2 linked regions of the Homo sapiens genome follow. The protein of the gene in region 1 purifies or fractionates together with the protein of each later gene. This does not show direct contact. Each region holds a gene or a part of one and is shown on either strand. Other genes may lie near its edges. The genes, in order: TMEM106B and STK11IP.

Evidence for each region.
Region 2: the proteins of TMEM106B (region 1) and STK11IP purify together in Homo sapiens (affinity purification with mass spectrometry; one large-scale study listed by BioGRID and IntAct). This does not show direct contact.

What each region holds. Positions count from the first base shown.
Region 1 is NC_000007.14:12,235,068-12,238,884, forward strand, and holds part of TMEM106B (transmembrane protein 106B), read left to right. Parts: 3' UTR 1-3,817. UniProt on the Homo sapiens protein: In neurons, involved in the transport of late endosomes/lysosomes. May be involved in dendrite morphogenesis and maintenance by regulating lysosomal trafficking.
Region 2 is NC_000002.12:219,611,311-219,615,127, forward strand, and holds part of STK11IP (serine/threonine-protein kinase 11-interacting protein), read left to right. Parts: exon of another isoform or gene 1-51; intron 52-293; coding exon 294-524; intron 525-644; coding exon 645-748; intron 749-1,817; coding exon 1,818-1,915; intron 1,916-2,441; coding exon 2,442-2,620; intron 2,621-2,850; coding exon 2,851-2,932; intron 2,933-3,165; coding exon 3,166-3,236; coding exon of another isoform or gene 3,237-3,379; exon of another isoform or gene 3,380-3,561; intron 3,562-3,783; coding exon 3,784-3,817. UniProt on the Homo sapiens protein: May regulate STK11/LKB1 function by controlling its subcellular localization.

The sequences.
Region 1 (3,817 bases):
AGTAGTGACAAACTAATACTGCTGGACTAAGATTTTGGTAGCATTGTTTTCTAAAATATTTTAAATGGAGAATGAACACTTATAAAATGCTTTGGAACATAATCTTTAGCTTAATTTTCTGTTAAAATTTAGTACCCCTTCATCATTCCAATAAAGATAAGACTGATCCATTGTCTAAGGAAATTATTTATAAATAATAGAGATTAATTTATTTGAGATTTGAAATAAGAATAGTATGAAAATATTAGATACCACATAAATTGTTTGAAATTACTGAATAACCATCTTAAGTATGGAACATTTAAATGGCTATATTTTATTTGTGTACAGTTTTTCTGTGCCTTGTTAGGCCAGTGAAGCAATTATTTTCTCTAAGAAAATGACAATAAAATATAACACACTTCAGATTGTCTGATTTACAGTTTGGAAAGGACACCGCAATGTTCAAATAGGTAGGAGACCATCAAAAACACAATTAAAGTAACATATTAGGAGACTTGAAACTTCAGCCTAATAAATCCTTCATGGTTCTTAGCCTTATTATTGTGATATAATTCTAGATATTTTCTTGGAGGGCATGTGCCCAACTCTCCCGCACCCCATTTTGTTTGTCTTTTAAAGTTCTTAGAATAAACAGTTCTTTATATAATAATTATATTTTATTTAAGAAAATAGTTTGTTAGGTACTTTTTAAAAGATGTAAATTTTTAAATTTACAAATACATATGGGTCTTTGATAAGCAATAGGAATTGAATTACAAGTTACTAGGGTTATAAGCAAAAGGTTGCTTACCATAATGTCATTAGGTCACGATTTTTAGCTCACATCTGGAAGCAGCAACTACTTGGCTCAAGTACATATAAGAGTAATTAGTTTTATTCTCTCTTTTTTATAAAATCGGGTTTCAGATGAGATGTTTATCTTAGACTATTTTAGGGAAAAATTTTACATGTTTGAGATGGTGGAGTAAAAAGACTGTTAAACATTTCTTTTAAAAAATTATTTTTACATTACAACAATATATTTATGATGTGTTCAGATCAAAAATTTAACTTCTGTGTCCCAGATCTACTTTCAAAGTGAGATTTTCACTTGTCAGCTTAAATTTCTGACTAGAACTAACATTTGTGTATTTTTGTGCTTAGTCGGAATACAAATTTCACAGTGGATTTTTGAAGTTTGTCCTTAAATTGGATAAAATCAAGTGATTAAAGTTACTAAAGAGATAAAAATGGTAATTTCCATTTTTAAAAGTAATTTGGTTGTGTTTATAGTTATTTGTACAAGTATTTATCACAGACTCTAAATTGAAAAATGTAGTATGATCTATATTTGACCCTAAAAATGTTGGATTAATTTAACAAATATGGCAGATTTTTCATAACTAAGTCTTAAGTCTTCTAAAAGGAAGCTGTTACCCTTCTGTTTTTAATTACATTAATTGAAATGTGTTTTAAGAGATACAATTTCAGCATATTTTATATATTAAAAAACAAAAAAGGATTAGTATTGAGCCAGTGGCCAAAAGGTAATATTACTACCATGTAGACTGTTATAGTTCAAATTGTCCCACTTCACCCAGAATTTTAGAAACTAGAAGTCTGGGAGGTACTATATCAGCTGTAGTTGGGTAATTCCAAGTGCTGATAGTACTATTCATCTTTTTTATTATTGTGTCAGATGAAACAAATGCCAAGTTGCAAAATATGCAGATTTTTATTATATAATGGTTTTAGGCATAAATTATTAACAAGCCATGCCTTATGTGTTTCATCTTATATTTTTCTTTAGAACTAAACTATAACAGATTTTGGAAAATGATTTGACGTGCTTGCTCACTTGATTGACTTGGTCAGATATTTGAATGATGGTATTACCTAGATTCTAATCCTTGATTCTAGTTATATAATAAATAATATAGAATATGAAAATATGTTTGGGCATTTACTGTTTATATTATGTAGTAGCCTCCATCATGACACACTTACTACATTTATGAATTGAGCAGTTCTGTAATTGTAATTATTATTGCTGTTCATGTAACAAAACATGCTTATAATAGCAAACAAATAGAAATGCCCCCAAAATGCTATTTTTTTAATTCAGTTATAACTGTTACTCTTGTAGTTGTGTATGACGCAATAAAATTTGTAAAAAAATTTCAGCATGAAAAATAAAATTTGTATCACTTATGTATTTTGGCTATGCTTTTGAAATTTCCTTAACATAAACAAATCAGTGTAGATATTCAAAATCTTTTACCTTTAATCCTTTTCATCCTTATAGTCCTTACCTGAACTCTACTTTAGCATTATCTTTGATTTCTTTTTTTCATTCACTTAACTTCCAATCAGTACTCAAGCTTTATCCATTCTACCTCTGTAATGTCTCTGGAATTTATCTCATACGTGAAATTTCCCTTGATATTATAGACATACCTTGGATATATTGCAGGTTTGGTTCCACACCATATCGATAAAGTGATATAATCAAGCAAGTTACACACCTTTTTTTGGTTTCCCAGTGCATATGAAAGTTATGTTTACATCATACTGTAGTCTATTAAGTGTGCAATAGCATTATGTCGAAAAACACAATATATATGCCTTAATAAAAAATAGGCTGTGTGCAGTGGCTCACACCTGTAATCCCAGCACTTTCGGAGGCCAAGGTGGGAGGATCACCTGAGCCCAGAAGTTCAAGACCAAATTGGTCAACATGGCGAGACCCCATATAAAATATATACATACACACACACACACACACACACACACACACACACACACACTATTGCTAAAAAATGTTAACGATCATCTGAATGTTCAGAAGTTTATACTCCTTTTGCCGGCACAGGATCTTGTCTGGATGTTGTTTGCTGATAGATCCATGTAGTGGTTACTAAAGTTGGGGTGGCTATGGCAATTTCTTAAGACAACAATGAAGTTTATCACATCTATTGCCTTGTCCTTTCATGAAAGATGTCTCTAGCATGTGATGCTGTTTTGATAGCATTTTACCAATGGTAGGTCTTTTTTCAAAATTGGAGCCAGTCCTCTCAAACCCTGCCTCTGCTTTATCGACCATGTTTAAATAATTTTCTAAATTCTTTATTGTCATTTCAGCAGTGGTCTCAGCATCTTCACCAGGAGTAGATTCCAACTCAAGAAACCACTTTCTTAGCTCATTCATAAGAAACAATTCCTCATCTGTTCAAGTTTTGGCATCAAGTTGTAGCAATTCAGTCACATCTACAGACTCCATTGCTAAATTTTAGTTCTCTTGCTATTTCCACATCTGCTGTGACTTCCTTCACTGAAGTCATGAACCCCTCAAAATTATCCATGAGAGTTGAAATCAATTTCTTTCAAACTCCTGTTAATGTTCATATTTAGACCTCTTCCCCTGAATCACAAATGTTGTTAATGGCATCTAGAATGGCAAATCCTTTCTGGAAGGTTTCAATTTACTTTGCCCAGATCCATCAGAGGAATCACTACCTATGACAGCTATGGTCTTACAAAATGTATTTCTTATATAGTAAGATTCAAAAGTCAAATTTACTCCCTGATCCATGGCTGCAGAATGCACGTTGTGTTAAGAGGCATGAAAACAACATTAATCTATTTGTACATCATCAGAGCTGTTGGGTGACCAGGTACATTGTCAATGAGTAGTAATACTTTGAAAGGAATTTTTTTTTCCAAGCAGGTCTCAACAATGGGCTTAAAATATTCAGTGAACCGTGTTGTAAACAGATGTCATATTATCCAGACTGTTCCATTTATTGAACACAGGCAGAGTAGGTAAAAGTTTTAA
Region 2 (3,817 bases), on another chromosome or scaffold:
AGCAGGTCCTGGTTGTGTTTGGCCCAGTCTGAGAGGGCCTAGAGTTAGAAGGTAGAGTGCACTTTGAGGAGTTTGTGGGCCAGGGTTAGCTCATCCCTCCCTGGGGTGGGGAGTGATCAGTTGGCAGCTGTGCCGGGAGAGGGAGCTGGTGGCCTGGGGCGCGGTGGTTGTGTATGAAGCTGGAGGCTTGGGCTCAGGGGAGACCTGAGCATGGGGAAGGAGCATCGTGAGCATGGTGGGAGTTGTGGCACTGTGGGGGGGGCTCATGGGGACCGTGTCCATCCTCCCTCCAGAATCTCCTGCTGTGTGTCCTAACTGTGGTAGTGACCACGTGGTTCTCCTCGCTGTGTCTCGGGGAACCCCCAACAGGGAGCGGAAACAGGGAGAGCAGTCTCTGGCTCCTTCTCCGTCTGCCAGCCCTGTCTGCCACCCTCCTGGCCATGGTGACCACCTTGACAGGGCCAAGAACAGCCCACCTCAGGCACCGAGCACCCGTGACCATGGTAGTTGGAGCCTCAGTCCCCGTGAGTATAGGCAAAACAAGACATAGATGAGTTTGGGGAAGGGAAGGGGCACTGATGGGGAGGTGGAGATGGAGCCCAGGGGCTGCCATGGGCAGGCTGATGCCCCCTCATTGCCCTCAGCCCCTGAGCGCTGTGGCCTCCGCTCTGTGGACCACCGACTCCGGCTCTTCCTGGATGTTGAGGTGTTCAGCGATGCCCAGGAGGAGTTCCAGTGCTGCCTCAAGGTCTGTGCTCCCTGACACTGCCCATGCCCCCAGCTGTCCAGGGTGCCCACTCGTTTCCATCACAGCCAACTGAGTCAGATCAAGCACTCTAGAGACCTGATCTGGCTTCTGGTTTCAACCCCAGCAGCTTCTTGCTGTGTGGCCGTGGACACATTCCCTGGTATTTGAGTCCCAGTTGTTGCCTGTCTGCAATGGAGATAACGATGCCTCCCTTACACAGTGGCGTGCGTCAGGGCTCATGTTGAAGCTGCCCAGCCCAGCACCTGGCACTCATCAATGGGGCCTCCTAGCATTATTATAAACACATGATGTCGTTAGGCCTTTGTTGAGCACCTGTTGTGCTAGACATTGAGGATCTACAGATCAATCTTGCCCTTGATCTTACAGTCTGGTGTGAGAAGCTGACAATGATTATGCAATATGCAAATGCTGTAATCGGGCTAAGGCCCTTGAAGGGGTGTCTAGTCCAGCTTGAGTGGGTCAAGGAACCTTCCTGGGAGGTGATGTCTAAGCTCAGTCTTGAAGGGTAAGTTAAGGAGTAGGGAGGAAAAGAATGTCTTAGGTAAAGGAAGCCGCAAATGCATGGAGGCCCGAGAGTGTCGCTGGTGGGGAGAACTGCCCAGGATGAGGGCACCTGGACATGCAGGGCGAGGGGCAGGGGTCCTGAGAGGACTCTGGGGGGCCGGCAGGGGCCAGGTCAGGAGCTGCCTCCTGTGTCTGCCAAGGAGTTTGGACTTGTTTCTGAGGGCCACTGGGAGCCACTGAAGGATTTGAAATGGGGCAGTGATGGTCAGTTTTGTGCCTTAGAATAGTTAGTCTGGCGGAGCGTGGAGGGGGTGAGGCGACAGGCAGGGAAGCCAGCTGCTGAGGCTCTGAGCGGGCAGGGGCTGCAAGGCAGAGAGCGGTGGTGGATGAAGAGGCTGTCGAGTGTGAGGGAAGCTCCATAGACTGGTGGGTGGGCAGTGGGAGGGTCAGGCCGAGGGTGCTGTCACCAGGAACTCGGCTTTCAGTCTGGCCCCACCTCCCCAGGCCTCTCATCAGGTTTCTCACCAACTTCCTCTTCCCCCAGGTGCCAGTGGCATTGGCAGGCCACACTGGGGAGTTCATGTGCCTTGTGGTTGTGTCTGACCGCAGGCTGTACCTGTTGAAGGTGACTGGGGAGATGCGGTGAGTGAGAGGGGAGATGCAGTGAGTAAGGGGGGAGATGGGGTGAGTTGGGGGGAGATGGGGGAGTGAGGGGGAAGATGGGGTGAGGGGGGAGATGGGGTGAGTGAGGGGGGAGATGGGGTGTTAAGGGGGGAGATGGGGTGAGTGAGGGGGGAGATGGGGTGAGAGAAGGGGGAGATTGGGTGAGTGAGGGGGAGGTGGGGTGAGTGAGGGGGGAGGTGGGGTGAGTGGGGGGGAGGTGGGGTGAGTGGGGGGGACGTGGGGTGAGTGAAGGGGGAGATGGGGTGAGTGGGGGGCGGAGATGGGGTGAGTGGGGGGCGGAGATGGGGTGAGTGAGGGGGGAGATGGGGTGAGTGAGGGGGAGATGGGGTGAGTGAGGGAGGAGATGGAATGAGGGGGAAGATGGGGTGTGGTGAGCGCACGGGGGTGATGCAGTGAGTGAGGCAGGTGCAGCTGGGGCAGGGCCTCTCTGGGACTCTCACTCCACTCTCATGCTTCTCCATTGCTCTGTCCCCTCTCTCCACAGTGAGCCTCCAGCTAGCTGGCTGCAGCTGACCCTGGCTGTTCCCCTGCAGGATCTGAGTGGCATAGAGCTGGGCCTGGCAGGCCAGAGCCTGCGGCTAGAGTGGGCAGCTGGGGCGGGCCGCTGTGTGCTGCTGCCCCGAGATGCCAGGCATTGCCGGGCCTTCCTAGAGGAGCTCCTTGGTGAGAGAGGGGAGGGGAAGGCAGGAGGGTGGGCAGGAGGGTGGGCAGGGCCTTGGGGCCAGGCTCCCCACCTGGTACCCAGTAGCGGAGACAGAGAGGTAACAGGACTTGTCCCTTGTAGAAGTTTCTGAAATCCAGAAATGTGGAGAATAGGAAGGGATTGAGAGGTGGTGAGTTTAGGCTGGAGGAGAGCAGAGCCTTCTAAAGTTCCCTGGCCTGCCTCTGTCTAGATGTCTTGCAGTCTCTGCCCCCTGCCTGGAGGAACTGTGTCAGTGCCACAGAGGAGGAGGTCACCCCCCAGCACCGGCTCTGGTGAGTCGATAGGAGGCAGAGGCTGGGGTTGCTGCCCAATCCTCTTTCCACAGAGCCCCAGACATGGCCCTGTGCTGAGTAGGTCCTGGGCAGCCACCTGTCCTCATGCCATGCCCCTTATGGGCCCCTAGTGTCTCCTCCCAACCCCCTGCAGGGCTTTCTTCCCACTCCCCTCTCTTCAAGTCCTTCCCACCCGCTAGCTGATCTTCCTGTGCCTGCCATATTCCCTCTAGGCCATTGCTGGAAAAAGACTCATCCTTGGAGGCTCGCCAGTTCTTCTACCTTCGGGCGTTCCTGGTTGAAGGTGAAGCCTCTGTGCAGCTGATGCTTCCCTGGTCTCTGTACCCTACCTTGTCACAGGCACTGGCCCACGCGCAGCACCTGTACAGTGCCCTTGCAGCAACTGTCAGTTCCTGGAACCTGGAGAACCTCTCACTTGAGGGCATAGCTGAGTAACAGCCTCAGTGTGCCCTGACCCTCTGGGTGGGGTTAGGAGGCACCCAGGATCCTCAGTTACCCAGAGCCTTTGCTCTCGGGCCCAGGCTTTCTATGAAGTGGAGCAGCGTGGCTGAGTCGGCCCTGCCTCATCAGTCACAGAAGGAGAGGGTGGAGCCTTGTTTCTGAGTAGGGTGGGTGTGGGGCAGTGGGGGGCGGTAGGCCTCAGAGGTATTCCAGAGTAGAGATTCATGGAGCTTGGGAAAGGGAGGGTCTTGGCCCCAGGGGCACAGGCTGCTTTGTGACCCACCTCAGAGTGTGGTTCACACCTCTTCTCCCCAGCAGCACTGGGACGCTGGCCCCAGGGATCTGGGCCCCTCCATGACCTTCCACACTGGATGCCTCTTTCCCTGCAGGCCCTTCCACCTGCCTCGTATCCCTGTTGCTGAC